2 separate regions of the Homo sapiens genome follow, and region 1 is linked to region 2. Evidence: fine-mapped expression QTL. A gene starts in region 2. The other region holds a variant in brackets. All regions are shown on one strand. Distances are from middle to middle.

Region 1 (16,448 bases), 22 kb after region 2:
ATCAGTATGGTTACTGAACAAGAACTTAAAATAAGTATATCAGTTCCATCAAGATAAAGCCCTCTGTTGAGAATAAAAGATCACAAAATCTTGGATTCAAAACTGGGGAAAAAGCTGATTTCACTATTCTTTCTGAGGTGCCCATGAACAAATCACCTGACATCTCTTCTGAGGGCCTCAATTTAAGTCTGTGAAAAATGGGGTTGACAGCCCCATCCCTTCACACATCTCACAGTTAACTAAATGAAGTGATATGACAGTGAAAGCATCAGAGAACTCTAAGAGACTGTAAAGATGGTGGGGGGCAGGGTCAGTGTGGTAAGAATATCATTCTAGGCAAAGTCCAGCCTGTACATGTTGAACATCATATCTCTAGAGGGATGGTTTAGGCCTGAAACCCTTCTTCTATCTCTGAGAGACTCAAAATGCTCATATGATTATAAAAAACAAAAAAAAATCTACCATTTTCTTTAAGGCAACTGACTTGGTGGTACCTTGTTTGCTTTCTTATTTTTCACTGCTGTAACTAATTGTTACCACATGGTGGCAGCTCCAAGCAAATGCTAAACCTGAGAGAATCATACAATTGAGGACTAAGGCTCAGGATGATGCTGTCTCCCAAGGAATGCAATATTCCATCTTTGAGAAGATGATTAGAAATCACACAACATATCAGCTCCCAATCCTTGCAATACAAACAGAAAAGAAAATATGTATTATATAGGGTTAAGAGGGAAGTATGATTCAGTTCTAGTAGATCTGTCCAAATCGGAAGTCATTCATGTTCAAGGAGAGCTTGGGCAAGGTGATCCAGAGAGTATCCGTTTGTCCTACACTAACAAAGTCATTGTTGATATTACTTATAATATTAATCACAGCAGTGGCACCAGATATCTCAGATCCATTCTGTAACATCACATACTTGGAGGCAAATCAGACGTGACATTGGAACCCCAGGACAGGTTTAAACAGCACGTGCTTCCTTCCACAAAATACATTTGTTCAGGAAACCTTAGTTTAGCATGGGTATAAGCTCATTTGTGGCCCTTACAGTCTTTGAAACAGGAAAGAACGTAGTAATTGTTATGGCATTTTACCAGAGGTGTGGTGTTCTTCCTAGAACCACATGTTATCTCAAAATCAGACTGAAGCCTCCTGAATCCTAACCCCACAGCTCTGTGTAATGGAGGTTTTTCAGGAAAGTGAATGCCAACTCTTTCCCCACTTCTGCCACGGTGTTTCCATAATGCTTTGTGGGGGCGAGTGGAATGCAAGGTTGGAAAGAGAGGAGGCCTTGCCAGTTACACTTAGTCACTAGTTGTGATTTTCTTTGGAACAGAAAGTATTCAGCATCCTGGGGAAATACAGAAGAAATAGAAACTAAGTAGGCAAAATAAGTGCGTGTGTGTGTGTGTGTGTGTGTGTGTGTGTGTGTATGTGTATATATATATATATGTATATATACACACATATATATATTTAGCAGATATATATATAATTAGAAGATATATATCTTTTAAAAACATAGAAACATTTATTAGGTTACAATATCAGGAACATTAATAAAAATTGTAAAGAAATGCTGAGCCTGTCACTGAACCTTCTAGATATGAGTTAAACCTCTTTTGATTTGAGTGTAGAGGGATTGCAAAAATACCAGATGATTGGCATGAAGGTAGAGAGACACAGGTGCCACCAGTACCTTGAAAGATGTTCCTCAAGTATGGGTCTCTTCTGAGTTACTCCTGATGCCATTTTATCCCTCAGGAACAGAGACAGAGTTAGCTGACACAGCCCTGGATCTGCTCCTCTTGCTACTAACAGAACAGTGGAAATGGCTATGTACCGAAAACATGCAAAAGTTTCTTCGTCTTATCTTTGGGACCCTAGTTCAAAGGTAAGACTGCTGAATTCTCCCTCACATCAGAATCTCAAGTTGCAGAGAAGGTGGATGTGATGCTGAATAGTGTCCAGGGAATCTGCAGCCGTAAGAGAAGATAGATTCTCTGTTACAGGGGTTACAGGGATGAAAAATGCCTTGAGAGTATCAGAAAGCTTTTATTGACTACCTTGTTGTCTACAATTTGAAAGTAAGACTGTAAGACTTCTGGCATAATGTACTGAGTTGCAGACACTGTGTGTGATCCTAAAATACTTAGCTGAACTCTTCCTCCTCTCAATTTTCCACCCAGTTATATCCTCCAGCCCTGCACCTCTCACTTGGTTATGGTGGACATTTGTCTCAACTGACATTATGTCATCACTGTGATGATAAACAGTGGGAAAGAAAAGGAGAAAACAGATCAGTGCTCTTGAAATAAAGATTGTTTTCTCTGAGAGGGGCATAAATATTCACAGCTGAAATACTTACTGACACAGGATGGTAAAGAATAGAGGGAAATTTGGATTTGCAAGTTGGCTTTTCTAATCCAGTCTTTGTAATCCTCACACCATTTGATCTCCTGAAAGATTTGTACACAGGTGGAGTTTTTAGCTGCTGACTTTCTAACTATGGAACTGATGTAAGCTTTGTTAACCTGAAGTAGGCCAGAAACACTCTCTCTGAGCCAGGCAGACACACGTAGTGCTTGGGTTTTGGCTACTCTTGTTTTGAACTCCCTCTTATGAGACGTCCTGGCACATCCCAAAGTAAGAGGAAGCCAAATGCTGACCTTCTCTTAGCATGAGGCTCATGCTAACAGGTCACTCAAAAAATACATCCTTATAAAAAAGAATTATGTATCTATTCTTTACCAAGTCGAAAAGTTATTAACAGCAAGCAATTAAATCTCCCTTTTCTAAGTTATGTAGGATCAAGGAGGTTTAATAAAATTGAATCATAAAGAGACCAAGTGAAAGAAGATGATGCACATCTATATTTGCTAAGCGCTTATCTATGCCAGCGCCCAATCTCCATTTACATGTACTTTTTTATAGTGGTCAAGTGAGGTAGGTAGCCCCATTTTACAGAATGAGAAAATAGAGCTTGGCAAAGTCAACTAACATGCCCAAGGTCGTCATTAGTAGCACACTTAGAATTTTAAACCAGATTTGTACAACTTCAAAGCCAATGTGCTTTTTTCATGTATCTTGTAGCCTTAAGACTGATGTCCAAGTGAAACCTACATATAAAATGCTGACTGGTCTTTGTCCCTTTAAGCTTTTCCCCTTGTTCCTACTCAGTATTCAGCCCTGCCACTAGAGTGCCTTTTTCTGAAAAACAAATCTGAACATATATTCTGCACTTAAAATCTTTCAGTAGTATCCTATTACCTACAAAAGTGGTTTTTCCATTATGTTTCCTAGAGTTCTAGGGTTCTGCAGAAGTGCTTCTGAAGCCAACTTAGAAGCTCAGGGAAAACTGAGTGGACCATGACCCAACCACAGAAGTTACACTTTGATCAGTTTAATATACTGGGGCTCTAGGTAACGCTTTGTTTGAAAAGGGGCTCCACTCTGTTTAAAATATGCATTTATTTCTTTATATTAAAATTCCACCTCCTTTCTTACTTGGCATGATCTGGTTTCAGTCTTATTTTTCATTTTCCACCGTGTAAACGTCCATCATTGCCTGAATATTCTGTGGTCTTTTACCCCCAGGCCTTTGCTCATCTTCCTGTATCTGCCTTCGAATGGTCTTTCTCTACCTGTTATTTCCCTGTTCCTTCCATGTGTTCCTAACTTTTCCTCTTCTTGTCTGCTTGGCCTACTGCAAAACATTTTTCATATATTAAGCATAAAATGTCATTTATTCTGTGAAACCTTCTGTAGCATCTGCTCTCTTTCCCCGAGAATTAAGGAGTCCTCTTCTCTAACTTGCAAAGTTTTGATAATAATACTTGTCACAGTGTGTTTATATAAATGATCTGCTTTTCCTACACTAGTGGTTGTCAACTGGGGTACACTTTTGTCCCCCAGGGGACACTTGCCATTATCTGGAGATATTTTTTGTTGTCACAACTGGGAAGGAGATGTGGGATGCCTACTGGCATCTAGTGGATGTAGGCCAAGGATGCTGCTAAACATCCTGCAGCTACACAGGACAGTCCACCATGCCAAACAACGTGAATTATCCTGCCCAAAATATCAGTGTTACCAAGCTTGAGAAATGCTGTGTAGACTATTAGTTCTTTAAGGACCGGAACTAGCTTTGTCTCCCCAGCAGCTTATACAGGGCCTGGACATAGTAGGTACTCATTAAATATTGAATAAAGAAATAAACATTTCCCTTCCCAGTACCTTTACACTTGAAAGTATAGTCTCTTTAGTTTTATTCTGTCACCTCTGGATGTCACTAATTAGGCCTTCATTTCTCTTCTTCTTTTTTTGGACTTCCCTTTGCTAATCTTCTAAGTGGTTTAAAAAAACAAAATGAGAAGATCCCAAAACTAGCTAGTGTGTGATCTAATATGACCCCTTCTCCTTGAGGTCATTTACATGACAGATTGGTTTCAGAACACGAGAAATTATTCAGTATGAGGATAAAAGTATAGATGAGTTAGGAGAAATTCAAAAAAGATTGAGATCCTTATATAAAAGGGGTAGGAAAAAGTTGACCTGAAGTTTGAATAACTCAGAGTGCTCAAGGGTTTGGGCTAGTCCAGATAAAGGAGAAATACCTATATTCTGGGAGTTAGAGAATGATCACAGAAGTACTTTTTCATGTGGCCGGGGCCCTGGGAGATCTAAGGCAGAAAAGTTAAATACGAGCGAAGCAAGCTCCAGCTGCGTGGCAGACATGGAAAAGACAGGGCTCATTTTAGAGTTCAGAGCAGAGGCTGTGAGACTTCTTTCTTTTTCATTTTTCATATATTGAGGATAAAATGTCAATATATGAAATATCAGTGAGATGGGATTTCATTCTGTCGCCCAGGCTGGAGTGCAGTGGCACTGCAATCATAGCTCACTGTAACCTCCTGGGCTCAAGCCATCCTCCCACCTCAGCCTCCCAGGTAGCTAGGACTACAGGCACACACCACCGTGCTTGGCTAATTTTTTAAATTTTTTGGTTGAGATGGGGTCTCACTATGTTGCCCAGGCAAGTTCCTCACCTTTCCATTCCTGTCCCTGACACTCCCCAACTACAACCACAACTCCAGTGAGCTGGGTAAAGTCTGGTGAATGCAGACTAGCAAAACCCAAATGTAGCTCATGCCATAAAGGAAATGAGGGAGAGGGCTTACAGCTGAATTTCCCTAGACTTTCTCCTCTTTTCACATTCTGACTTTTTGTTTTTTGGTTTTGTCTTATTCTGTTTTATGGAAAAGCATCACTATTGTGATGGGAAAAGTGGGAAAACTCTGAATATATTTGGTGAATTTGAATGAAGCCACTGTGAATATTGGGCAAGAACAGCATTTTGCGGCTAGTTACTTTTGAAAAACTTGTTGTAACTATGGCCTGTTATCTTTGGTTCATTGTACATATTTCCAGGTGAAGATGTTTTATACATGTTCAGTTACCTCATATCCCTTCCTGTCAACAAGTTCTTATATCTAAGAATACAACTTTATCCTTAGCCCATTTGGTTTTGTATTAGCTGCAATGAAAATAGGACCACATCTGGTTAGCAGTCTCCTCACCCAAGCTTCCACAGACTAGAATTAAATGAAGAATCTCATACTTCTCTGTTTGAGGCCATTCATGTATCCCTACAAATCATTTTTCCCATCTTTTTAATGACATTTTTGGCCCTCTTCTGAAGTACCTTATAGCTGGTTTCACAGTTTTCCTGAAGCCTCCTTAAGATAGGAAGCTAGAAGTCATGATATCTAAAGAAAGAACCGGTTCTTCCACTAGAGCTTCCAAAGATCTGGCACTGGTGGCCCATGGTCTCATACCTGGAAGCACCCTGTGCATTATAGACATGGAGCTAACACATTTTAGCATTCAGAGTGTAAACGTTGATAATCTCGTCAGCATCAGCACATTTGCTGTCCAGCAAATGTTTATCGAGAGTTGACTTAGTGCAAATACTGTACTGAACACTGTATGCACATGCTGTTCAAAAGCCACAGTTACTTTTGCACCAACTTAATACCATTTAATTCCTCCAAGTCCTGCGAAAGCGGTACTATGACCCTCATTTTAAAGACAAGGAAACTAAGGTTTACAAAGAATGTGGGTTATCTAGTCAAAATCACAGGGTTAATAAATATCACAAGCAGAATTTGAACCCAGGTTTTTCTGATTTATAGCTGTGATGATTGTCTAAATTTCAGGATCAGATCTTTGCCCTGCAATTCAGCAGGATAAAAGCCAACCCAAAAATCTCTGTCTCCAAGTACTGGAGATTATCAGGCAGTTTGTAGAATCCAAACTGCATCTCCGTATCTACACACTTGCAGCTAACCTAAGGGCAGTGCTGCAGTCTAAAGACAGCCCATGTTACTATCCCTGGGACAGTTGCAGGTTTTAATTTTAAAAAGTGGTGTATGCATTGCTGCATGCTTCAGCTTTATTTGCTTTGGTAAGCCAATATGCTGGAAACTTGACATCTCCAGAGCTGCAGCACCTCTCCACTGTACCCCCTGCATCTCCCACAAGAGGCATGATATGAGGTCCCGTTGCCTCCCATCCCCATGACTGCTGCCTAGGAGGCTACATGTTTGTCCTCCCTGAAACCACGGGTAGCTGAGCCATATGCTTTTGCAGGGTACTTGGGTTCTCTTCCTTTAAGTTCCGTGCTTAAAAGAGCAGGATAGTTGGTGTTGGTGCCACACGTGGTACTGCCACTTCTCTAGTTATTTAGAACTCACTGCAGTTTGACCATCAGGGATGCTGTAGTCACCAGATTTGAGTGCATCTCCTCCTTAAAATGTCCTCATGTTCCAACCTCCAGTATTATTATCCCCAAGCAGGCAAGTTTATTCCTCTGCTTCCAACTTTGTATACCCATCTTGCAACTTTAAAAGACCTGTGTACATTACTGCCTTGGACGCCATAGACTTCTGTCAAATTATAAGCACACTCTCTATCCTGCAAAGGAAAAAAAAAAAACAGAGTAAGTTCGACCTCATAACCCCTCCTTCTAAGCCAAAGTTGGAAGAGCTCTGATCTGAGCCAGGCTTATAAATCTCCGTTGATTGTTGATGATGTGGAGAGAAGTGGGAGGGGAGCTGAAGAGAAGTTAGATGCCCAAAAAAGGCATTGTTAAGTCAAAGGGAAGTCTTGCATGCATGTGCGCCTAACCTCATGTGTCAGCTTCTGTGCTGGGAACATCCAATTATGTAACAAGAAGCACTCCTTATTTGGAATGAGAGACAAAGGGAGGGGAAGGGGAGAGCGGGTAGCACTCTGAGCCAAGGAGCAAATCCGGCTTGTGCAAACTCTGCTCATGCCCGAAAACAGAAGAAACTTGAAAATATCTCTGCAAACATCAGAATCAGATTTAGCAAACTGGGCAAGTACTCAGAGTTAGACTGGGTTGGAGGGAAAGAGGAGAGATACACTGTGCTGCATTGATGGTAGGGGGTTTGGGGCAGGAAGATCCAGCCAAGGTAAGGGGTAGGATTGGTGTGGAGTCCTGATGGAAAGTGAAGGAATGAGAAGCTGGACCGGCGCCCTGCCTGGACACCCAGAGCAATGCCACGATAAAAATAGGAACCATGCCAGCAGCAGAATGCGTGAATGCCACGTCCGCGGCGCTGCCCTCCCCATGGCCCCAACGATGGCATCAGACCTGTGTCAAAAGGGCAGCAGACACATTCCTGGCATCTGCGTCAGGATTTCTCAGTTAAAAAGGGAGTGTGTGTGTGTGTGTCTGTGTGTGTGTGTGTAAGATAGAGACAGAGTGTGTGTGTGTGAGTGTTGGGGGCATGTGGGAATGGAATGGCTTGGCAGAAAGCCAGGGGGAAAGGTTCTGGCAGAGGGGAGCGTGAAGTGTGTAAAGTTAGGAAGTATCCAGAGAGGAAGAAGAAAAGAAAGGGTGTGCAGGTTTAAGGAGTCCAACAAGCAGGGCACCCAGGAGAAACTTGATGGCAAGCTCTAGACCTTACACCAGACCTTGGAATCACTTTCTTAGAGAAGATGTCTCTCTCTAAACCATCTCCTAGGAAAGGTCAGGAGAGCTGCGGCAGAGTCTGGGAGCACTGGAGAGTGCTGTGCTGCAAGGCGCAACGTCCACCTCCCCTAAGGACAGTTGGGAAAGGTTGACCATGAACCCTCTTGCTTCCACTGTTCTCTTAGAACGCTCCAGAATCAAGGCGCTTTCTGTGGAACTCTACTTCAAGGGCCTCTTTCTTGGTGGGCATGTCTAACTAGCAGGTGGATAACAGTTCTTTGTGACATTGGTTATTTCTTAAGAGAACCTCCAGGTCTGCCACCAAAAGTGCACGAGTAATTGCAATGGGAAAGGAACTGACGCTTATTACAATATTAATACCAGGAAAGCAGCTATGTACTGTTTATATTAATGTTCAATTCTATGAGATAGACATGTAGTTCTACATTTCATAAGTGAAGAAAATTACATTCAGATAAAATAACGTTCCCAAAATCATAAAAGTCGTAACAACCACACCTTAAGATTCCACTTAAGTCATCCTGGCCTCAGAGCTCATGTGTTTCCCACTGCTCTGCCATGCTTCCCCTCCATGCAAGCTTTCCCACAAAGCAGTGGCCACTAGAACTGGGTTCACCTGAAAGTTCCCTTGCCGTATTCCCATCTAGCCTCTCTTGCTTTCCATCCAGCTGGTCTCAGGGACACACGCATCTGATGGTAGCATATAAATTATTTTTGTCTGCATATTCTGATTTTATTTTTAAAGCACTTCTGAGCCAGAGATTGTCTCTTAGCTATCTCTATTTATATGCTATTCACAATCAGGAAAAGATTATCAACGTTAAGACTCAGAGTTTCTCAGGAAGCATAGATTACAGTTTTTTCCTTTGCTGTGTAACTTTTTCTTCCAGTTCAGCTCTGATGCCTGGCTATGTCTTATACCC[C/G]ATCTCTTCCTATGCACAGCTTTTCTAGAAATACGCATACTTTTGCAAGACCCCCACATACAAAATTAACTCAAGCTCAGTCTTCAGAATTCTCGCTTATTTTCTGGCTCTCCAGTCATTGGCTTGGGCTGTTTTTAGAGGTGCTGAAATTAATTTTTCTCATTGATGGCTTTGCTCAGATTGTACTGTGGCTCCCTGGGAAGGAGTACTGCTTGTCCCAGGCCTCTTCCATTAGGCCATGCCAAAGGGAAGCTCTTGACTTCTATAGACTGGGCCAGGATGGGCCCTAGCAGTTTCCCCTGTCATATGAGTGGTCTGCCTGTCATATTTCTTGGGTATCACTTATTCTACACCCATCTTAGGATGAAGACATCATGGCTTTCCTGTCACATAGTGACAGTCTCTACTGGAATATATCTTTGAGATTGTAGCAGGTGGATGGCAGCTGACAGCCGTGTGCCTGAGCATTGCATTTGCATTTCTGTGTGTGTGTGCTCTTGAAGTCTCATATACTCAAATAGAGGTACAAAATTGCTCATTGTAAAAGTTAACAAAAAACAGAATATCATGAGGTATTTAAACCTCAGAGCCTTTTTTTCCAAGTCAGGTTCTTGGCATCTCTTGCCCATCTGTGACTGCAAACAGGAACCTAAGATTTTGACATTTTGATGACAGCTTTAGAATGTATGTCAGCATCCTGAGGGCAGGGACTGCGTCTTATTTACCATTATATCTTCAACACCCAGCCCCATGCATAGAAGGCACCTAGTAAATTTGTGTCAAATAAATGAACACAGAAGATCACACGTCATTCTACTGGAGGCAGTCCCTCTGCTTATCACTATTAAGAATCTTAGGGTTTCCTCAACAGTGCTGGGGGACCAGAAGCAAAATGGAAACTGAGTCTTTCATTCCCTCCACACAGGGCATACCCAGATCTTCAGTTAATTGGGGAATTCTGATTCCCAGAGCCATGGTACGGCCTAAGCAAAGAGGTTTGGGGGCCCTTCAGGCCATCTCCCATTCTAATGGCTCTCTCCTTTCCAAAGAGTGCAGCGCCCCTCCACAACCTGGGCCTCCCAGTATGAAGCCCCACCGAGCCTGCCCTCTCTGGAAGCATCTCCTGCTGTTGTACTTTCTCCACCTCTTTCCTTCCACATGGAAAGCAAGAACTTGGACTTTGAAGTCAGATCTGAAATCAGATCTTGCTTTGAGGCTATGTGACTTAGAACAAACCACTTAACTTCCTTTGTCTGTTACTGTCGAAATAGAAATCATAGCCTAGTGCATGAAGTTCTTTGGGGGGATAAGAGATAATTTAGAGGTAAATGTTAGAGAGGCTTTATAGAGGAAGGTATAACAGCTAGATCTTGTGAGATAGGTGTCATTTAGACTGGTTTAGGCTAAATAATATTCTAGACACTAAGACATTTTTAAAACAGGAGGAGGGGCATTCTACTTTCAAATAAAAAGCAACCTGGAATATTTTTAGCCAGCTTCTTTCTGAATGTGTGTTGCTTTTATTGTTTCAAATAGGTGACAAAAAGCCTACCAAACTGCTGCTGCATGGCGTGGGCACAGGAATTCTCTCTATGGGCACCAGGTGGCGCTGCAGGTTAAACAATACCATTCACTGTCCTTTGAGGAAGACCTGTTTGTTTTGCAGTTATAGGTCCCCTGCCGTGATGTTGATACAGTATATTGAAGCCATTCCCTGGCTTGCTCTACGGTTTAGAGGCCACTTATCTGCCTACTCCTTAGTGCCAGTGACTTTTAGATAAGCCCTGTTTCTTTGATCTTTCACCCTTCTTCCTTCTGCTCTAATGCGTCTTCAGCATATGCTTGCTTCTCTGAGTGGTGTGGATGACCAGAAGTTGCCCCTTTGAGTGGATCCCACCCGTTAAAAATTCAGTGCTGGAGCTGATTCATTCAGAACAGAGTGAGCAGAACAGAGTCTGTGGTGATGAGACCAGCTAGACATCTGAATTGCAAGAATTTTGTTAATATTCTGTATAAACTACTTGGACCTATATTCAGGGTCTCCTGTGATCCTAAAATCTTATACATTATGTATTCACTAAGATGGAGATTGTCAGTGCTGAATAGCCCCGATGTTAGGAATCTTATCAACCTGTTACATAATCAAGGACATTCCCTATTGCTTTCGGCCATGGATGGAGACCGTTTGGCTCTCCCCCATTAACTTGGTTTTGGAGAAGCAACCATATGTTATTGCTTACTTTTGATCTTTACCTCTGTCCTTGCAGGCTTCTCCAAGTGCCCTTTGGAGAAGTAGAGCTATTTGGTACTGGAGCAGGGAGGGAGTTGGGTAAATTGGTGGGAAATATACTTTAGCTCTAATATAATGCTGGCCCCGAAAGATTTCTCGGAGAGGATTCAGCCTTCCTGGGAGGGAGGCTGGTGTGCAAATGCAGCATCAAGGTAAGTTCCTCAACACCTGCCTCCTCTCTCCCCCAGGTTTCCTTTTTGTTGTTTTTCCAGTTTTATTTATTACTCCTCTGTGTTTTCTACCCATAGTCAGTGCTCCCAAAGTTCCTATTCTGTGGAGATTCTGGAGTTGCCACTTCGGTGTCCCTACGTCCTTCATAACGGGATAGATGGCCTTCTACTTGGAAAGGTTTTACATTTCAGCCTGTAGACAGGGAACTGGAAATACTTTTGGGTAGCTCTTCTACACCAAGGTGATGGTGTTAATGATAGTCACTTTTCCTTCTCCTCTACACCCCTCTCAGTGTTTTTTCTCTTTGTTTATCTTGGGCATCTGCTTCTCATATATGTATTCTTTATTCTCCTCAAGGCTGGTCTTTTCCAGCCTCCTGTAGCCATTTTCACAGCATAATTTGAAGTCCTCCCATGTCTGCTGATTTAAATAAATCCCTAATAATTTTCTTCCAAATCATGGCTGAGCACACTCTAAATCTGTTATCCGTAATATTTGCAGAAATTTGGAGGTCAGCCCCTTCTGCGAGCACATAATTACTTATCACTTCTGCCTCCTGCAACCCTTCCCTTCCCATCCTCCTTTCCTGTGGTGGGAGTTCTATGTGCAGAGCAGAACAGGGAGATCTCCCTGTGAGGTAAAGCCCCCATGAACAATAGGGACTCTGGTCGTCAAGACAACCACTAAATTACTGCCTTCTTCCCTCTTTTGTGTCTTGCCTTTCTTCCTGGTGCTTCAGCACTAAGGGTTTTGCTCCCTCTCCCTGCCCTTTCCCCTCCACGGACTCAATTTTCTTCTGAATGGGTGGCCATTTTAATTACCTTCCCCCTTCCCCACCCCACCTCTCTGCCCTTGCCCTTGCTGCTGAGAAAGGCAGGCTCAGGATAACTACCTGGGGACTGAGAATGAGCCAGGCTTGCTGTTCACACGGGGACAAGGAAAGAAGAGACAGAGACATTTGGATCCTATAGTCTCTGCAGTGAAAGTTTTATTGGTTGGTACATGGAGGTCTGGTTTTAGGAAGGATTCGGAAATAGAGTTTTCATATTATCCAAAACCCCCTGAGGCCTCGTCCCAATTTTCTTAACTGCTCAGTACCAAATGCTTTACTGGTTTCAGTATTTACTTCCCTGAGCCTGCCAGGAAGAGTAAGCTTTACAAGTGAGAAAACTGAGGCATGAAATGCAAAGCTTACTCCAGATCCTGCCATCATTAGTTCGCTGAACCTGGTTGAATTTTTACAGAAGGTCTGAAGTAGTCTTTTTCTCTTTTACATGTGCAAACACACAAGCACTTTTAGAAATACTTTTTATTTTTCTTATTTCATCTTGATGATAACTTTGTGAAAAAGGCAAGGCAAGAATTTGCCCATTTTATAATGAAGGAAGCCAGAGCTCAGAGAGTTTGTTCAACTTTTATGTGGTTAAGCCAGGTTCAAACCTGTCTGTCGCTTTTCAGTGTCATTTTTAAAGTCTGTCAGTCCTGATTTTCTCAGAACTGGATTATAGTATGTCGGTAGCAACATAGTATGGGGCCAAAAAAAGGTTGACTTGAAAGACTTCAGAGGCACACTAGATTTGTGCATAGAAAACTTTCAGATTGGCCGGGCGCAGTGGCTCATGCCTGTAATCCCAGCACTTTGGGAGGCCAAGGTGGGTGGATCATTTGAGGTCAGGAGTTTCAGACCAGCCTGATCAACATGGTGAAACCCCGTCTTTACTGAAAATACAAAAAAAATTTGCCGGGCATCGTGGCGCATGCCCTTAGTCCCAGGTACTCGGGAGGCTGAGGCAAGAGAATCACTTGAACCCAGGAGGTGGAGGTTTCAGTGAGCCGAGATTGCACCACTGCACTCCAGCCTGGGCGACAGAATGAGACTGTCTCAAAAAAAAAAAAAAGAAAAAACTTTCAGAATGAAATCTTAAACATGTCACAATACTCAAATATAGAAATTGTTAGAGCTTTCCCTTTACAATCAGTCTTATTTATCCTAAAAATACACAGACCCCAAGTGTCTTTTTCTCTTTCTACATTTGTTAGAAAGGTAACCTGACCTTTGCTTTTGGTCTTTCCTCCCCCATTCTGCTACCTTCCTCTCTTCTTTTCTTCTTACTAGTTTCAAATAATGGGTTGGAATCAATTCAATGCTGCTCCATCCGTCAGAGGCACTTCCCAAAATACAAGTGTGACTCATAGTCCTCATAACCCCCCTTTGCTTTTTGTTTGACTTTCAATCTCTTCTATCCTCTGGGCCTATTTCCCAGGAAAATTGACCAAACATAAGCTACTGGCAGCTGTCTCTCTCCTCCAGGATTTATAGTGTGAGATAAGGAGCATGGCTGACCCACTCCCTTGCCTTCCAGCTCTCTTCCCTTCCAGAGGAATGCATAGCCAGGTGTGAATGCCCATTTCATGGATTATTCTTAGTTCTAGACCACCTGACTTATTACCTAGCATACCCGTTACAACATCAGCTCTATCGCTGGTGTATTAGCCCACAGTTTCATTTTATTATTAGCCTAAACAAAAGATTATTAGGAAAGTAAATCTGTCAGACGTGTATATAAACATATATGGAATGCCAAATATAAAGGATTTTTATATTGTCCATGATTTTTTAAAATCTATAATTGTCTTCCTCTGTAAGCATGAATAATTAAGAGCTCAATGTTTTTGCTGTTGTAAGTATTGGGATGTATGCTTTCTGCAGAACCTATTTTGAACTGTGTGCCATGCTTTAAGACCAGTGTTTGTCCCATATACAGCATGAATTCACTTAGTAACCAATATTTATTGATTGCTTTCTCTGTGGTAGGCACTTCGTTAAGTGATCAAAATACAAAAAAAAAAAAAAGACCCAAATCCCTACCATAGGAAGTGTGATATCCAATTGGAGGTGCAAACTTATAAATAGGAGTTGTAGTATAAAATCAGTGCTTTGAAAAGAACTCTATATGTGATTCAGAGAAGGGATTTATCAATTATGAGAGGTGCAGGGAAGGCTTATAGTAGATGACATCAGAGATGAGATTTAAAGAATGTGGGGCGTTGCCAGCGGACAGTGAGAGAGAGAGAGAACATTCAAGGCAGAGCAGTAAAACAATATAGTGTATTTGTGGTACTCAAAGAAGTTAGTATGATTGATTAGGAATATATGATATGCAAGAATAATGGCTGATGATAACAGTGAAGAGTTTAAAGGGAGTCTGCTCATTCAGACTCCTGTGAGTCATTCCAAGAACAAAACATTTGTCACTCATTTGATAGGAAACAATTTTACAAAACATAAACAGATGATGACATGAGCAAATTTGCAATTGAGAAAAATCATTTAAATAGTGCTGTGGAGGATTAATTAATTGAAGGGGCCAAAGTTAGAAACAGGAAGACAAATTAGGGAGGAGTTTCATTGATAGAAAAGGTGATGAGGCATTCAGCTGAGATCATTGCTATAGAGATGGTAAAGGGGTAATAGATTCATGAGATATTGAGGAGGTAGGATCACCTATATTTAGTGACTATTTAAATGATTATGTGGTGTTGGATTAGGGTTGAGAAAAAGACAAATCAAGAATGACTCACACAGTTTTCCACCTTGCAGATTGAGAAGCATAACTAAAAAGATGGGGTAATATCTTTCTGAACAGCATATTGGGGTTGTGGTTAAAATCCTGTTGCTTACTAAAGTAATAGATTAGTATCTACTCTGATTTATATAAAAATCAATGATGCACCCAGAGAAGCCTGTACTGTATCTCTAATAATTTTGAGATTCTTTTTAGTAGAAAACTTAAGGCCCAGATTATATTTTCAACTTTTTTTCTATCTGTAAGTTTCTTTAGAAGAAAAATGAAAACAGAGAATGAATAGCTAACCTTGTAGCTGGTACCAAGGCAAGGTTTTTAAATTTTCTGTGCCATGACGTATGATTATTCACATGGTGAACTTCTGACCACAGACAGAATACAACTCAAAAATAGTAGAAAGAATGTGTTTGTCAGCAGACCATCAACCCAGTGAAGAGTAAGACATTGACAAAAAAATTCAGATAAAGTTAAAACTGGATATTGAGAAAAACAGCTGACACAGAAAGGAAAGCAGAGATAGATGAGAGTACTGGAATTCACAGGAGCGTAACAGAATGAGATAAAAACTGTTTTACATGCTGTAAGAACAGATTAACTTAAAATTCACGCCTGAAGGTATCACTCAAAGTTTTGCAACAGGATCGATTCATTCAGTAAATATTTGATTGTTTATTTGTGAATGACACTATTAAATGCTAAAGGAGATGTCAAAATGAATTACATAAGATTTCTGCCTTCAAAACCTTAAGAGTCTTTTTCTGGGGGGTCGGGGGGCATTTACAAGAAGCTCAACCAATGCTTTGAGTAAATGAATGAACAAATTAAACACCCATTTCCAATGAGGAAGAAAAAGAGTCAGCATCAAATGAAACCAGGGTAGTTAACTGCGATCAGATTCTAGGTGAACATATTTTAAAAACAGAAAGAGGGGACACATACTGAACAATGCAAAAATAGTAGTAATAGAACTAGTAAGAACAGGGTCCAGTAAGCTTCAACTCAGAAGGAGCTGAGGTTGTAGATAAATATTAAGGGAAAAGACTTAGGTGAAAAACACATACACGTGTCACATGTTACTAACAAGAAAAAATATATGTAGGTAATTGTTTGGGACAGATGCTGTAGTATCAACTGATTACATGGTGAAAGCATTTATTCATTCATTCAGCAGTGAATGAATGGGTCTATTATTTGCTAGGCTGTTTTCTATTTTCTTTGTCAAGGAAAATGGCCTAGCAAGAAGAATTGAACAGACATGATTAAAGTAGAATTGGCGACCAAAATAGAAATGAAAATAATAATAGAGCACGTAACCTATTTTAAAGTTTGTACATTTAAACCTGTACATGGCCTAGATGAATTATATCCCATGAAACTTAACAAATTTATATTTAACATTAAAGACCTAAGGTCATTAAGAAACATTGCCATTTGTCCATATGGGTTAGAGATGC
Region 2 (16,448 bases):
CTTCTGATGTTTCCCATTCAGAATAATATTTTGAGGTAAGGAAATGCCTTCCTATAATTGTTACTTGAAATCATGAACGAATATTGAATATTGTCAAACGTTTCTACCACATCTACTGAGACAACGTGTAGATTTTCTCATTTAATGTAGGGGCTGATGATTACAGAGTTTTTTTGTTTTGTGGTTTTTGAGAGAGTCTCTCTCTGTCGCCCAGGCTGGAGCGCAGTGGCGTGATCTCGGCTCACTGCAGCCTCTGCCTCCTGGGTTCAAGCCATTCTCCCACCTCAGCCTCCCAAGCAGTTGGGATTACAGGCACCAGCCACCACACCTGACTAATTTTTATATTTTTGGTTGAGACGGGGTTTCACCATGTTCCCCAGCCTGGTCTCAAACTCCTGAGCTAAAGCCATCTGCCTGCCTCGGCCTCCTAAAGTGCTGGGATTACCGGAGTGAGTCACCATGCCTGGCCAATTACAGAGTTTTTAATGTTAAACCACCCTTGTGTTATCTTTTTTTTTTTTTTTTTTTTTTTTGAGACGGAGTCTCGTTCTGTCTCCCAGGCTGGAGTGCAGTGGCGCGATCTCGGCTCCCTGCAAGCTCCGCCTCCCGGGTTCACGCCATTCTCCTGCCTCGGCCTCCCGAGTAGCTGGGACTACAGGCGCCCGCCACCGCGCCCGGCTAATTTTTTGTATTTTTAGTAGAGACGGGGTTTCACCTAAGTACCCTGCTGGATTTAGTTGGCTAATATTTTGTTTAAGAAATGTTCGCATCTAGCTGGATGTGGTGGCTCACACATGTAATCCCAGCACTTCCGGAGGCTGAGGTGGGAGAATCGTTTGAGGCCAGGAGTTTGAGGCCAGCCTGGACAACATGGCGAGATCCCCTTCATCTCTACAAAAAAATTTAAAAATTAGTCCCTGGACATGGTGGTTTGTGCCTGTAGCCCCAGCTACTGAGGAGGTTGGGGTGGGAGGATCCCTTGAGCCTAGGAGGATGAGGAGGCAGCAGCGAGCTGAGATCGCGCCACCGCAATACAGCCTAGGTGACAGAGTAAGATTCTGTTTCAAAAAAAAAAAGAAAAAAAGAAAAGAAAAGAAAAAAGAAAGAAATGTTTACATTTAAAAGTTGATGAGAGAGGTTAACCCATACATTTTCTTTCTTTCTCTGTCTTGTCTAGTCTTGATTTCAAGGTTACACTATATTCGTGAGTTGCAAAGTATGTACTTTTAAGAAATCTTAAGGAGTTTATATAAGATTATATAAATTTGGAATGACCTATTCTATTTGGAATAGGTTGGGAGAATTGGCCTATAAAATTATCTGGTATTTGCTTTGAGAGAAACCTTAAAATGTTACTTAATTTCTCAATAGGCGTAGATTTATTCAAACATCCTATTTCTTCTTAGATTATTTTGTAATTTATATTTTTCTAAAACTTTTTCCATTTTGTTTTAGAGTTTAAATTTGCCGTCATTAAGTTATTCCTTTAATTCTACTGCATACATAATTATGTCTCCTTTATCAGGCTCCATATTATTTACTATTTATCTCTTTTTCATTCTCAATCAATTTACTTAAATTTTTTTCTTTTTTACTGGTCTTTTAAAACAATAAACTTTTGGCCTTTTGATCTACTTTATATTATTGATGCTTCCTGAATCTACGTTTTCATCCAGTTTTAGAACACTATCTGCCAAAATCTCTATAAATTTTTATCCTCCTCCATTCTCTTTATTATCTTCCTGGAACTCTTGATCATATAAATATTAGAATTTTTATTTTAGCATTCATTTCTCTTCATTTTTCTTTCATATATTCAGTTCCCTAGTTCTCTATGCTATAGCCTAAATAATTTCTTTCAACAAATACTGTAGGTCATTAATTTTTTCTTTGGCTATATATAATCAACTATTTAACACATACATTAAGTATTTTATTTCAGTAGTCCTATTTTTCATTTATAAAAGTTTCATTTGGCTATGTTTTGAAACTGTATGGGCATCTTTGACAATCTGTTATTGTTAGAACATACTTGTATTTCATTCATTTTGAGCTCATACATGGATCTTCTATCTTAAGCAGCAGACAATATTCATATCCACAGTCCTTGTGTTCTCAATCTGTTGTTTATTTTTTCTGATTCTCACTCATGTTAGCCTTCCTTCTCATAATTGATGGTCTTGGATTTAGAGTTCATAGTACTCTATATTAAATGTGTGCTTATTTCATGGTCTTACCATGAGAATATTTTCTTCCAGAATGGATTTCTTTTGTGTCTTCCAGAAGCTTGGAAATGCCACTGACCTGGAACTTCTTCAAACCTCTTCAAGGATTGTGGCTCCAAGTGGAGTCAGGGGCTCAGTTTCACCTCCTCCTGCTGGAACAAGGCTCAGAACCTGAATTACAGATCTGATAAGGACGTCTGTCCCTGGGGCCACCCTGCTCCTTTCATCTGCTCTCCACTGACAGTTCTATCCTCATCTCAGAGTTGTTTTCTGTTTCGTTTTGCTCTTATTTAATAGTTTTGTTTTTAGAGTGGGATGGGATAGTGTACCTTGGACTTCTCACCTATTTTGTGTCCTCATTTGAGCCCATTAACTCATCAATAACTGTTTCCTATTCAGTGTCTGGTTGTTCTGCAGAGGGAAGGGCTATTCGAGCATTTAGTATTGTATGCAGCCAGATGAGGAAGTTAAGCCTGGATCTCCTTAACTTGTAGTTCAGTGCTGTTTCCACTTTTGAATGAAATGAAAAAAAATATTGGGAACTATCAAGATTATTATCTTCCTTTTTAGTATCCTCATAATCAAAATATGACCATTCACATAACCCACAGATAGAAAAGAGGTAGTATGAACTGAACCCTGTCCCTTCAAAACTCATATGTTGAAGCCATAGCCCTCAGTATACCTCAGAATGTGGCTCTATTTGGAGATAGGCATGTAAAGAGGTAATTAGGATTAAATAAGGTCTTATGGGTGAGCCCTAATCGAATATGACTGTATCCCTATAAGAAGAGGAAGAGTCACCAGGGATGCGTGTGCACAGAGGGAAGACGCTGAAGAGGTGGCCTTCTGCTAGGCAAGAAGGGAGGCCTCAGGAGAAACCAAATCTGCCAACACCTTGATCTTAGACTTCCAGCCTCCAGAACTGTGAGAAATAAATTTCTGTTGTTTAAACCACCCAGCATGTAGTAGTTTGTTCTGAGCCGTAGCAAACAAGTATGGGAGCTTACTCAGTATTTCTCATGTCTCCCTTATTCCTAGTACGACCTGTTACTCTTGTCTTTTTTTTTTAACCTTTTTTTATTATTTATTTATTTATTTATTTATGTTTGAGACGGACTCTCACTCTGTCGCTATGCTGGAGTGCAGTGGCACGATCTCAGCTCACTGCAACTTCTGCCTCCCAGGTTCAAGCAATTCTCCTGCCTCAGCTTCCCGAGTAGCTGGGACTACAGGCGCGCCACCACACCCAGCTAATTTTTGTATTTTTAGTAGAGACGGGGTTTCACCATGTTGGCCAGGATGGTCTCGATCTCTTGACTTGGTGATCCACCCGCCTCGGCCTCCCAAAGTGCTGGGATTACAGGCGTGAGCCACCGCGCCGGGCCTGTTACTCTTGTCTTTATGGGAAATTCAACCCACCCTTTAAGGCCAGCTCAAAAGTCATCTCTTCTGTGCAACTGTTCCTAATTTTCTGCCTTCCCATATTTTGACATATTTTGATTATAGCACTTTTTACATTGTGTCAATATCCATCTCTTGCATTAGACTGTGAATTCTTTAAGAAGATAAACTATATAAAGACCATGTTTGAATTCCCAATATCTGGCTTAATCCTCGTGGGGTGAATGGATAGACATGGGACTGACAAATGAATAAGTAAGATGCAGTTTCTCCTTAAGATGCCATACTTTCTGCTGCCCTCTGGTGGCTATTTTGCTCCATCACCGCGCCTAAGGCAGGATGTGGAGATGCTCCTGCCAATATCCTAGTTCTTCATGGATGCTTTTAGATGATTCTTTCCCAAATTACACACAATTTCCTTCTTTTCTTTTGGTATCACCATACTTTCTTTACTCCTTGTATTACTCTGTTCTCATATTGCTATAAAGAACTACCTTAGACTGGGTAATTTAAGAAGAAAAGAGATTTAATTGACTCACAGTTCGGCATGGCTGGGGAGGCCTCAGGGAACTTAAAATCATGGCAGAAGGCAAAGGGGAAGGAAGCATATCTTCATAAGACAGCAGGAGAGAGAGAGTAAAGGGGGAGGCACTACACACTTTTAAACAACCAGATCCCACGAGAACTCTATCACGAAACAGCGCTAGGGTGACGGTGCTAACTCATTAGAAACCACCCCCATGATCCAATCACCTCCCACCAGGCCCCACCTCCAAAACTCAGGATCACAGTGCTACATGAGATTTGGGTGGGGACACAGAGCCAAACCATATCACTCCTCGTATTACATCACCTTCCAACTTCCTGGTCATTCTTCTCACTTACTGAGAACATTTGTACCAAGATCCTAGTCCTCTCTACCCTAACATTAGTGACTTCCTTGACCATGTAGATCATCCTTCTCCAAAACATAGACTCAAAATGTCTCCTTCAACCCTAGCCCTAGGTTATCCAGACCCTATTTCAGAAACTCATCTGGCCACACCCAGACTTTATTACCACAAAAACATTTTCATCTTTAGGCATGTAGCCTCTGTAGTAGGTCACATAATGCCCCCTTCCACCAAAATATGTTCACATCTGGACCCCCAGAACCTGTGGGTATGTTGTTTTACTTGGTAAAAGAAACAAAAGATAAGACTAAGTTAAGGGTCTTGAGATGGGAAGTTTCTCCTAGATAACTGCGGAGGCTCAAAGTAATCACAGGGCCATTTTAAGAAGAAGGCAGACCATCCTGGCCAACATGGTGAAACCCCATCTCTACTAAAAATGCAAAAATTAGCTGGGTGTGGTGGCACACGCCTGTAATCCCAGCTACTTGGGAGGCTGAGGCAGGAGAATCACTTGAACCCAGGAGGTGGAGGTTGCAGTGAGCCGAGATCGCCCCACTGCACTCCAGCCTGGTGACAGAGAGAGACTCCATCAAAAAAAAAAAAAAAAGGCAGGAGGGTCAAGGTGGGAGAAAGAGATGTGACCACAGAAGCAGAGGTTGGAGCATGTGGTGCCATAAGCCAAAGATCACAGGCAGCCTGTAGAAGCTGGAAAGGACAAAAAAGAGATTTTCCCTTAGAGCCTCCAACAGGAACAAGCCCTCTCAATCCATCTTAGACTCCTGACTTTCAGAAATGTAAGAGAATAAACATGTTTGCTGCAAGCTGCTAAGTTGATGGTCATTTGGTAGAGCAGCCATAAGAACAAACACAGGCTCTGATGGACCAATCTTGAGCCACAGGTCTTTTTCTTCTGGCTCTTACTCACTTGCTCCCAGTACAGCTCATCCTCTCCTCACAGCTGTTTGTCTCTCTCCTGGCTTCGTTTTCCTTCCCAGATACCTAGACTCCATGATTTTCCACTGTAACCACTCTCTTCCCAGGATGTGAAGGTCCTAATCTTTTCTCCTTTCACTTCATCTACCTTGATACCTCCTGCTTGCTTCTCTTTTATACCGAGGATACTTGATATGGCTTGGCTGGTTCCCCACCCAAATCTCATCTTGAATTCCCCCATGTTGTGGGAAGGACCCAGTGGGAGGCAATTGAATCATGGAGGTAAGTTTTTTTCCATGCTGTTCTCATGATAGTGAATAAGTCTCACAAGATCTGATGGTTTTATAAAGAAGAGTTCCCCTCCACAAGTTCATTTCTCTTTTTGCCTGCTGCCATCCATGGAAGACATGCTCTTCCTTGCCTTCCACCATGATTGTGAGGCTTCCCCAGCCACACGGAACTGTAAGTCCAATTAAACCTCTTTCTTCTGTAAATTGCCCAGTCTCAGGCATGTCTTTATTAGCAGCATGAAAAGGAACTAATACAGTAAATTGTTACCAGTAGAGTGGGGCTGCAGAAAAGATACCTGAAAATGTGGAAGCAGCTTTGGGACTGGGTAACTGGCAGAGGCTGGAACAGTTTGGAGGGCTCAGAAGAAGGCAGGGAAATGTGGAAAAGTTTGGAACTCCCTAGAGACTTGTAGAAAGGCTTTGGCCAAAATGCTGACAATGATATGGACAATGAAATCCAGACTGAGGTGGTCTCAGATGGAGATGAGGAACTTATTGGGAACTGGAGCAAAGGTGACTCTTGTTAAGTTTTAGTAAAGAGACTGGTGACATTTTGTCCCCGTTCTAGAGATTTTGGAACTTTGAACTTGAGAGAGATGATTTAGGATATCCGGCAGAAAAAAATTTCTAAGTAGCAAAGCGTTCAAGAAGTGATTTGGGTGCTGTTAAAAGCATTCAGTTTTATAAGGGAAGCATAGCATAAAAGTTTGGAAGATGTGCAGCCTGACAATGCAATAGAAAAGAAAATCCCATTTTCTGAGGAGAAATTCAAGCCCGCTGCAGAAATTTGCATAAGAAACGAGCAGCTGAATGTTAATCCCCAAGACAATGTGGAAAATGTCTCCAGGGCATGTCAGAGATCTTTCTTTGCGGCAGCCCATCCCATCACAGGCCTAGAGGTCTAGAAGGAAAATAGAGTTTCATAGGCCGGGTCCAGGGTCCTGGTGCTGTGTGTAGTCTAGGGACTTGGTGCCCTGCATCCCAGCTGCTCCAGCCATGGCTGAAAGGGCCCAACGTAGAGTTTAGGCTGTGGCTTCAGAGGGTGCAAGCCTCAAGGCTTGGCAGCTTCCACATGATGTTGAGCCTGTGGGTGCACAAAAGTCAAGAACTATGGTTTGGAAAACTCCATCTAGATTTCAAAGGATGTATGGAAATGCCTAGATGCCCGGGCAGAAGTTTGCTTCAGCAGCTTGGCCCTCATGAAGAACCTCTGCTGGTCAGTGAGGAAGGGAAATGTGGGGTGAAAGCCCCCACACAGAGTCCCTACTTGGGCACCACCTAGTGGATCTGTGAGAGGAGGGCCACTGTCCTCCAGACTGCAGAATGATAGATTGACCAACAGCTTGCACCATTCACCTTGAAAAGCCAGACACTCAATGCCAGCTCGTGAAAGTAGCTGGGAGAGAGGCTCTACCCTGCAAAGCCACAGGAGTGGAGCTGCCCAAGACCATGGGAACCCACTTTTTGAATCAATTTTGGAGTGTTAAGATTTGACTGCCCCACTGGATTTCGGACTTTCATGGGGCCTGCAGCCCCTTTGTTTTGGCCATTTATCCCATTTGAAATGGCTGTATTTACCCAATACCTGTACCCCCATAGTATCTAGGAAGTAACTAACTTGCTTTCGATTTTGGAAGCTCATGGGCAGAAGGGACTTGCCTTGTCTTGGATGAGACTTTGGACTGTGGAATTCTGAGATAATGCTGAAATGAGTTAAGACTTTGAGGGACTGTTGGGAAGGAATGATTGGTTTTGAAATGTGAGGATATGAAATTTGGGAGGGGCCAGGGGTGGAATGATATGGTTTGGTTCTGTGTCTCCACCCAAATCTCATCGTGAATTGTAACTCCCACAATTCCAATGTGTCATGGGAGGAACCCGGTAGGGGATAATTCAATCATGGGGGCAAGTCTTTCCCATTGTTCTCATGATAGTGAAGAAGTCTCATGAGACTGATGGTTTTATAAAGAAGAGTTCTCCCACACAAGTTCATTTCTCTTTTTGCCTGCTGCCATTCACGGAAGATGTGACTTGCTCCTCCTTGCCTTCTGCCATAATTGTGAGTCTTCTCCAGCCATGTGGAACTGCAAGTCCAATTAAGCCTCTTTCTTTTGTAAATTGCCCAGGCTCCGGTGTGTCTTTATCAGCAGCATGAAAATGGACTAATACAATACTAAACACCTCCAGAGAAAATAACTCAACCATATGTATTGGTGCCACTACAAAAAGGTCCCTCAGCCCCACCTTCTCTCTTTTTTTTTTTTTTTAGACGGAGTCTCGCACTGTTGCCCGGGCTACTGGAGTGCAATGGCACAATCTCGGATCACTGCAATCTCCACCTCCTGGATTCACGCGATTCTCCTGCCTCAGCCCTCCGAGTAGCTGGGATTACAGGAGCACACCATCACACCTGGCTAATTTTTTTGTATTTTTAGTAAAGACGGGGTTTCACTATGTTAGCCATACTGGTCTTGAACTCCTGATCTCGTGATCTGCCTGCCTCAGCTTCCCAAAGTGCTAGGATTACAGGCATGAGCCACTGCGCCCAGCCCCCACTTCATCTTTTTACCTGACCTTCGATAGCTCCCTTTCTATATCCCACAGCAATAATTCCATACCATCGCCTCTTCTCACTCACTTGCCCCATCACTGAGCTTCTCTTTAGGAAGCCTCCTGGTCTTCTATTTTGAGAGAAAATTCAAGTGGGGTGCGGGCTGGCTCTGGCAGGGCCTATGTCACGGGCCCCCCTGCTCTCATGGTCTCTGCCTGTTTCTTATGAGCAGGCCTCTGCCTGAAAGACCTTCCTTCTGTTTGCCCCTTGCTCTCGCTACCCAACATTTCCTAAAATACACTCAATTCTTTTTCATTTCCCAACTTAAGGGAAAACTGTCTATGAGCCACCCCCCTCCACAGCTGACCACCCGCTTTGTGTTTCGATTTTATTGTATGCACTTCTATTACAACACATCAGAACACATCACATTACACACGTGATCATGTTTCATTACGTTTATATATTTATGTGTCTCTCCTTTAACTAGACTGAGAGTCCCTTGAGGAGAATTATTGTATCTTATTTGTCTTGTTTTCTCCAACACTCTAGCACTATGCCTTTAATGTTTTGAGAAATAGGGAAAAGGAAAGAAGGAAGGACGTCTCCAGATGGTGAGTGGTGTGGCCAAGTCTCCCCACCCCACATACACACACCAGGGCACATCAGTCCTGACTCTCACCTCCTCCCAGTGATTAATCTGTTTGGAGACCAGGGTCTGCCCAGACCCCCAGGCAGGAGCTCACACCCGTCCAAATGACAAGTGCACGGGCATGTCCATCAAACCCGCTTCAGAATCAGGAAGGCACTCTTGGCTACCTTGATGCTCCAGACCATCTGGTCAGGTGGCATAGCGCCCACTTGCAAGGTCACTTCCTTACTGCCCTGAACACTCCAGATTATGCTGCCAAGTAAACTTTCTCTTTGAACTGCCACAGGAAGTCTTCAGCACCGTCGGTAGTCCCTTCATCATTCACATTTCTGTTTTAGCTCCCAACTAGGTGGCAGGGACTTTTCTCCAGAGCATTGTTGCCATTTTCTAAGTGCTCCTGAGGACATTAGAATGGTCTGGGAAGGTAGAGGGGCAGAGCCCACTTCTCGGGTTCCTTTTCTGCGGGAAGGCAGGCAGCAGTGAAAAGGTATGGACCGTGAAACCGTGGATTCACATTCTGCCATCTCACGGGAGTGCCCAGTCTGCTTAGTGGACACTGATCCTAAATCAAACCATTTGCTTTAGAAGTGATGAATCGTAAACTACGGGTCACATCTAAATGATGGCTTCTTTCGTATTCAAAGGAAGTCTCTGCCCCAACAGCAGCAATGGACGAGACAGGAAGCTGCAACGCACTTCTTGTTGGCAGAGTTTTGGGTTGGGATTTGTTTGAAGATTCCTTTAAACATCTAGGGAGTAGTCCATGATGATGAAAGACTGCTCACAGCACAGAGAAGGTGGACGAAGGGCAACCATGAGCAGCTCTGTGCAAACGATGCGAATCCTATGCCTAAATGGAAAGGAGACCCACCCTGCGGGCACAGCTCCTAGGGCCCAAGGTGGACATGGAAGCTGGCTTCACGCAAAACTGACACTAACACTTTTGACACCTGGTCAGTGCTTCCGGTATTTTGTCTTCCTATAGGTTCCTGTGTAGACAAGTGAAGTCTAATTTGCTAAAACCAAAAACAATCCAACATAGAGCATATTCCAAAGCAAATATATTACAGGATTATCTGAAAGGACACCTCTATCTCTGCTTTCCTTTTCTATGTTTTTGGGGAGGATAAGGCGAGAAGAGATAGAGGGAAATAGAAACCCTCATCCTTGAAGACTCAGCAGAAAGGCACCTTTTCTGTGAGCTTCTCCTTAACCATTGCAACCCACAGTGATCTCTCCTTCCCCTGAATTCCTATAAGATTTTGTATTTTACTATATCGCACGCTGACTGGCATTACTAGATAGCCAATCGCGTTCAAAGCGCTGGCATCCCCAGTTAGCAGGAGGTCCTGGAGGACAAGGTCTGCTTCTATTCGTCCACGCTGCCTCTCACATTGAAGACAGCAGATGCTCAAAATATTTGATTGTTTGTGTAATGCCACCAGCAAATAACCCTCAATCACAAATTTGATTTTGTGATACAGTATATGAAATGTACAACATAAATCTATCTCTGTATCGTTTCATGCCTTATATTCTGCAATTCCTGACAACAAATGAGGGTCTTTGTGCTGGGGACGCGGGGTACCGGCTCTAGGGGAAACCGGATAAATGTTAAGACACATCAGGCCAATGAAACTTCGCCTCCATGAAATTAAAATAAACCGGATTATTGACAGCGTGCCTAAGCAGTAAAGGACAGGCTTCATTTAATAACCAGAACTAGGACGCGTTTTAAAGCGCCTGGAAGTCTGGGTCTTAGCGGTGATTGCTGCGGCGGCTGTTTCGTGGCACTTCGGAAATCTGCGCCAGCTCTTGGCGAGCACGCGCCCCGTGCGCGCTCAGGCTCACGCTCAGGCTCAGAGACTACCTCGCGCAGGGCCGTCAGGGCGGCTCCTCGCCAGCAGAGGGCGCCGGGCAGCGCCGCTCCTCGGGGCGCGCGCGGACGCTCTCCCAGCATGCCTCGCTCCCGTCGACGTCGACCCGGAAGCTGTCGCCGGCGGCCGGCCGGCGGTCAGCCTTCACACAGGCCCGGCTGCGGAGCGCAGTCGCCCAGGTTTACGGCGGCAGAGGGCCGAGGCTCCCGGAGAGGACCGCGATGAGTCCACTTCAGGTCGGGGCTGAGTGTGGGCGCGCGGTTCCCGGCGGCGTGTGACCCAGTCTTCGCCGGCCGCTGCCCGCTGCGTGTGTAAGTGTCCGTGGGCCCCAGGGCCTTGCAGCGCCCGCCCCGAGGCCCCGAAGAGGCCTTCCGCCTGGGGCAGTGTGAAGGCCACAGAGTTTTCCTCCAAAGCCACACCTCAGCTGGAAGGGGCGAGTTGGAGGGCTCTGTTAGTGGTAGCCATGGGGAGACGCGGAGCTGCAGCTGTCGCTTTGCAGTGCCTGTAGGACTTTGAGGGCCTGGAGCCCCGGTTCCCTGAACAGCACCCAGATCGCCCCATATCTGAGACACAGTTCATGCCCCCCTTCCCTAACTCTGAAGTAAAATCTTGAGGGCTGTCATCTGGGGAAGCCACCTTGTCCGTTCAGCCATGAAGACAGAAACAGTGCCACCGTTCCAGGAAACTCCAGCTGGATCGAGCTGTCACCTCAATAACCTGTTGAGTAGCCGGAAGCTGATGGCTGTGGGGGTCTTGCTTGGCTGGCTCCTGGTCATACACCTTCTGGTCAACGTGTGGCTGCTGTGCCTTCTGTCGGCATTGCTAGTGGTGCTGGGAGGATGGCTGGGCTCCAGCCTCGCTGGAGTGGCTTCAGGTCGACTGCATCTGGAACGCTTCATCCCGTTGGCCACCTGTCCTCCATGCCCTGAGGCAGAAAGGCAGCTGGAACGGGAGATCAACCGCACCATCCAGATGATTATTCGAGATTTTGTGTTATCTTGGTACCGTTCCGTGAGCCAGGAGCCAGCCTTTGAGGAAGAAATGGAGGCAGCCATGAAAGGGTTGGTCCAGGAGCTTCGGAGAAGGATGAGCGTGATGGACAGTCATGCTGTTGCCCAGAGTGTTCTGACTCTCTGCGGTTGTCACCTGCAGAGCTACATTCAGGCAAAGGAGGCCACTGCAGGGAAGAATGGTCCAGTTGAGCCTTCCCACCTCTGGGAGGCTTACTGCCGGGCGACTGCCCCACATCCTGCTGTGCACAGCCCCAGTGCTGAAGTCACCTATACGCGTGGCGTTGTGAATTTGTTGCTTCAAGGGCTGGTGCCCAAGCCCCACTTGGAGACTCGTACCGGACGCCATGTAGTGGTCGAACTCATCACATGCAATGTAATCTTACCACTGATCAGCAGGCTGTCAGATCCTGACTGGATCCACCTTGTACTCGTGGGTATCTTTTCCAAGGCCAGAGATCCAGCACCCTGCCCAGCCAGTGCCCCCGAACAGCCCTCAGTGCCGACATCTCTGCCACTGATTGCTGAGGTAGAGCAGCTTCCAGAAGGGAGAGCTTCTCCAGTAGCAGCCCCAGTATTCCTAAGTTACAGTGAGCCAGAGGGTTCTGCAGGCCCCTCTCCAGAGGTTGAAGAAGGCCACGAAGCTGTAGAGGGAGATTTGGGTGGGATGTGTGAAGAAAGAAAAGTAGGAAACAACTCATCTCATTTCCTACAGCCAAATGTTCGAGGTCCCCTGTTCTTATGTGAAGACTCAGAGCTGGAGTCTCCGCTGTCTGAACTGGGCAAAGAAACCATCATGCTCATGACTCCAGGCAGCTTTCTCTCTGACAGGATTCAGGATGCCCTGTGTGCCCTAGAGAGTTCCCAGGCTCTGGAACCCAAAGATGGTGAGGCATCTGAAGGAGCAGAGGCTGAGGAGGGTCCAGGGACAGAAACAGAGACAGGCCTGCCGGTCTCCACACTGAATTCCTGCCCAGAGATCCATATTGACACAGCAGACAAGGAGATAGAACAAGGAGATGTTACCGCCTCTGTTACAGCTTTGCTGGAGGGGCCAGAAAAGACCTGCCCCTCACGGCCGTCATGCTTAGAGAAGGATCTCACCAATGATGTGAGCTCCCTTGATCCTACTCTGCCACCAGTTCTGCTTTCCTCCTCTCCACCTGGTCCTCTCAGCTCAGCCACCTTCAGCTTTGAGCCCCTAAGCAGTCCCGATGGTCCAGTTATCATCCAGAACCTTCGTATCACTGGCACCATTACAGCCCGAGAGCACAGTGGCACTGGATTCCACCCATACACACTCTATACTGTGAAGGTAACAGGATTAAAGCTGTGGGTGCTCACCCGGGCTAGGAGTGGGTTTGGAAAGCAGTCATGAAGCAAATGTTCTTGGGGGAGAGATGCTGTTAGTTTGAAGTGGTTCTTTCAATAGGCATCTATCTCTGTGAATGGTCTGAAGCTAATATGTAAGGCAGAGTAGCGTTTATCCTGTACTCACACAAGCAATCCTGGAACCTCAGGGCTGCTAGAATGCTGAGGGTTATATTTTCAGTGGTTCCCAAACTTGGCTGCACCTCAAAATCACTTGAGCTGCCTTTCAGATATACAGATTCTGACAGACTCTGTTGGATTCTGTATGAGAATTTCTAAGGAGGGGGTCCCTGGATTCTGTATTTTATTTATTTTCAAATAGAACTCTCCAGATAACATAGAGTCAGCCTGTCCTAAGGCCATCTTGGGGAATTGCCTCTCTAATCCAACCAACCCTCTTCATGTTATCTCTTGTCAAGTTGTTCCCAAGTCTGCTTACACACCTCCAAGAGTCAAAAACTTGCTATCTTCTGAGATAGACATAGGTAAATAACCTACCTTCCTAAAACAAAGTACAAAATGTACCAGTATTTTGAAAAAGAAATCAGCAGGGAAGAAGTTGAGAAAGAAAATTCTTGGACAAGATCCTACCCATTGGATTTTACTTGCCTTCCACACTTGAATTTCTCTCATTTGAGTCCACAAGCTACCACCAGGGACAGCCTGCTTGCTACACTCCTCCGAACTCCCAATCCAACTAAGAGGGAAAAGACCTTCCTTGATCTGCTCAACACAGCTGCATCATGACATAGCATTTTAGAAAGTAACATTATGACATTTTCAAGTAAGACGGAATGGAAGTAATTAGAAATGCATATGGGTGAACACACAGACACACACTCATTATAGGCAAATTGTAGAAGTACAGATGTCTGGTCATAAAATAACTGAGACTAGCCTCAAAGGACTGGTATAACTTTGTTAACATTTTCCTGCCTTTTTGTTCTAATTCTGGATGCCCCTATGCCATGCACCTTTCTCACATTTAAGTGTTGGCTTCTGGTTATTTCATCTTTTTTTAATGACTATTCCAATACTGACATAAAACAGCAGGTTTTTTCCCTCCTCATTAGCAGAAAAATTAAGTTGATGGATAGAATGTTTAAGTTCCCAGTCTTTCTCCCATTATTTGTTCTTTTTTGTTGTTGGCTAGATTTTGACATCTGCTACTGCTTCAATTAAGCATTAGAAAAGAGTAAAGTAAAAAATGAGAACGAAATAATATAGCCAATTATGAGTAGTTTGAAATTGGGTTTAGATTTTTATATGGACATATAACTGATTTTAAATTGTATATCAATATTATTATACTTTCTGATAGTAAATAGTTTTCGGTTTATGTGATGGAAGTAACCATAACGGTGTTGAAAATTGGCCCTCGAGGAGCAGCATATTCCACAGAAAGCCTCATAGTTCCAAATGCTCCAGGCTTGAGAGCCCCACCCTGAATGCCACCTGTTGCTCTTACTTGGTCTTTCCTTCTCAGTGCTGTTCTGAGGGACTGCTTTGCTCACATCAGCTCATAATGAATACCCTGTCTCCAGAAAATTGTAAAGCACCAGCCACAACTCCCACCAACGAGGAGGTAGTTTTTTCCACCTCTTGCCCACAGTATACCTCAACCGAAAAATAATAGCCCATTCCTAATGAGAAGGCGCACATATATACTTCTCCCACAGCGTTTCATTGTGTCTTAACTACCCTGTCAAGAAGTGTGCCCCCATGCTGAGTTGCAGATTCCATGCCATCCGTGGTATTCACTCTTTGGGGAACATGAGATATAAGTCGTCTTTTCCACATACCAGCCCTCTAAGCTTAGGAAGACAGTGGACTTTGACCCCTTATCACATCTCCAATTTTCATGTGACTTCTGTGATACAGATGATACGTACTTAGGAAAAATTCAGTTTAGCTCTAAGAATAACAATTAGGAAAATTAATCTGCGTGAAACAAAACAAATACCCTTTAATTTATTCCAGATAAACAAATGATTTATATCTGCTGTTTGGATTACTTCTTCTTCCCTTAACTAATATAAATAATCACGGGAGAGTATAATGGAAAAATGGTTTGCCCCTTATGATGTTTAGCCCTGTAATTTAAAGGTGATAGAGGCAGTATCATTTTTATGGATGTTATGCCTTCTATTCAAATATTCATTTGAAAAACAGTTATGTAGCCATTTTTATAAGTCAAGAAAGTATCTGGGAGAGGGAGCTTTCAGATGAAAGTAGTAGTGCGGAGGAGTGAAACTCATTTCTGACTTTCTAAGCAATTAGATATAGGAGGTTCTGGAACAGAATAGGAACATACTCCCTCCCTTTGTTCTTAGTTTCGTACTCTTGCTATGTGGCCATTGACCAAGTAGTCAGTAAAGCCAGAATAGAAGATTGCTGAAACCCGGCTGATTGAGTCAATCAATTTGTTCGTTGAACAGTACGAGACAGCCCTTGACGGTGAAAACAGCAGCGGCCTGCAGCAGCTGGCCTACCACACTGTGAATCGTCGCTATCGGGAGTTCTTGAATCTGCAGACCCGTCTGGAGGAGAAACCAGATCTACGAAAGTTCATCAAAAGTCAGGAGTTTCCCCAACCCCTACTGCCCGCTTGCTTCCCACGTCGAGCCACGCTGATTGGCCTGTTGGTTTATGGGAGGGATCGGGGAGGAGAATGCCGTTTCAAGGTTCTCTGCTCCCTGGATTTGCTTCAGGAGTTTTGAAGTTTAGTGCTGGACAGCAGCAATCACATTCTTTCAGAGGTAGTCCTTTACTGCCAACTGCTTTGTTCTGGAGCCCCATCTAGTTTAAGATTAAAAAATAAGTGTTCACATTTCCACCTGTGCCTGTAAGTTGGTGTGAGGAGTTAAATTAACTTTTCCAGATTCATAGATTGGTGGTTCTTAAATATTAAAATATTACACAGAAGTTGTTGCCACCTTCTTTCCTTAACACCCAGATCTTTTGTGTGCTGTTATGACAACTCTCAGGCATGGGGAACCTTTTTTTTTTTTTTTTGACATGGAGTCTCGCTCTGTCCCCCATGCTGGAGTGCAATGGTGCAATCTCGGCTCACTGCAACCTCCGCCTCCCAGGTTCAGGCGATTCTCCTGCCTCAGCCTCCAGAGTAGCTAGGATTACAGGCGCCCGCCACCACGCCTGGCTAATTTTTGTATTTTTAGTAGAGATGGGGTTTCACCATGTTGGTCAGGCTGGTCTTGAACTCCTGACCTCAAGCAATCTAC

The links.
Region 1: its variant is fine-mapped to the expression of SNX19 in prefrontal cortex (ROSMAP, PIP 0.95).

Annotation. Positions count from the first base shown.
Region 1 is chr11:130,888,704-130,905,151 of GRCh38, reverse strand. SNX19 (sorting nexin 19) reads left to right here. Exons shown (of 11, transcript NM_014758.3): 8 at 1,768-1,897. Among named protein-coding and RNA genes, the nearest start is that of SNX19, 20 kb to the left of the region's middle. The variant C/G (reference allele first, on the strand shown) is at 8,947.
Region 2 is chr11:130,910,968-130,927,415 of GRCh38, reverse strand. SNX19 (sorting nexin 19) reads left to right here and starts at 10,937. Exons shown (of 11, transcript NM_014758.3): 1 at 10,937-13,150; 2 at 15,645-15,783. The coding sequence starts at 11,477. RefSeq lists a silencer at 10,745-11,024 and an enhancer at 11,145-11,194.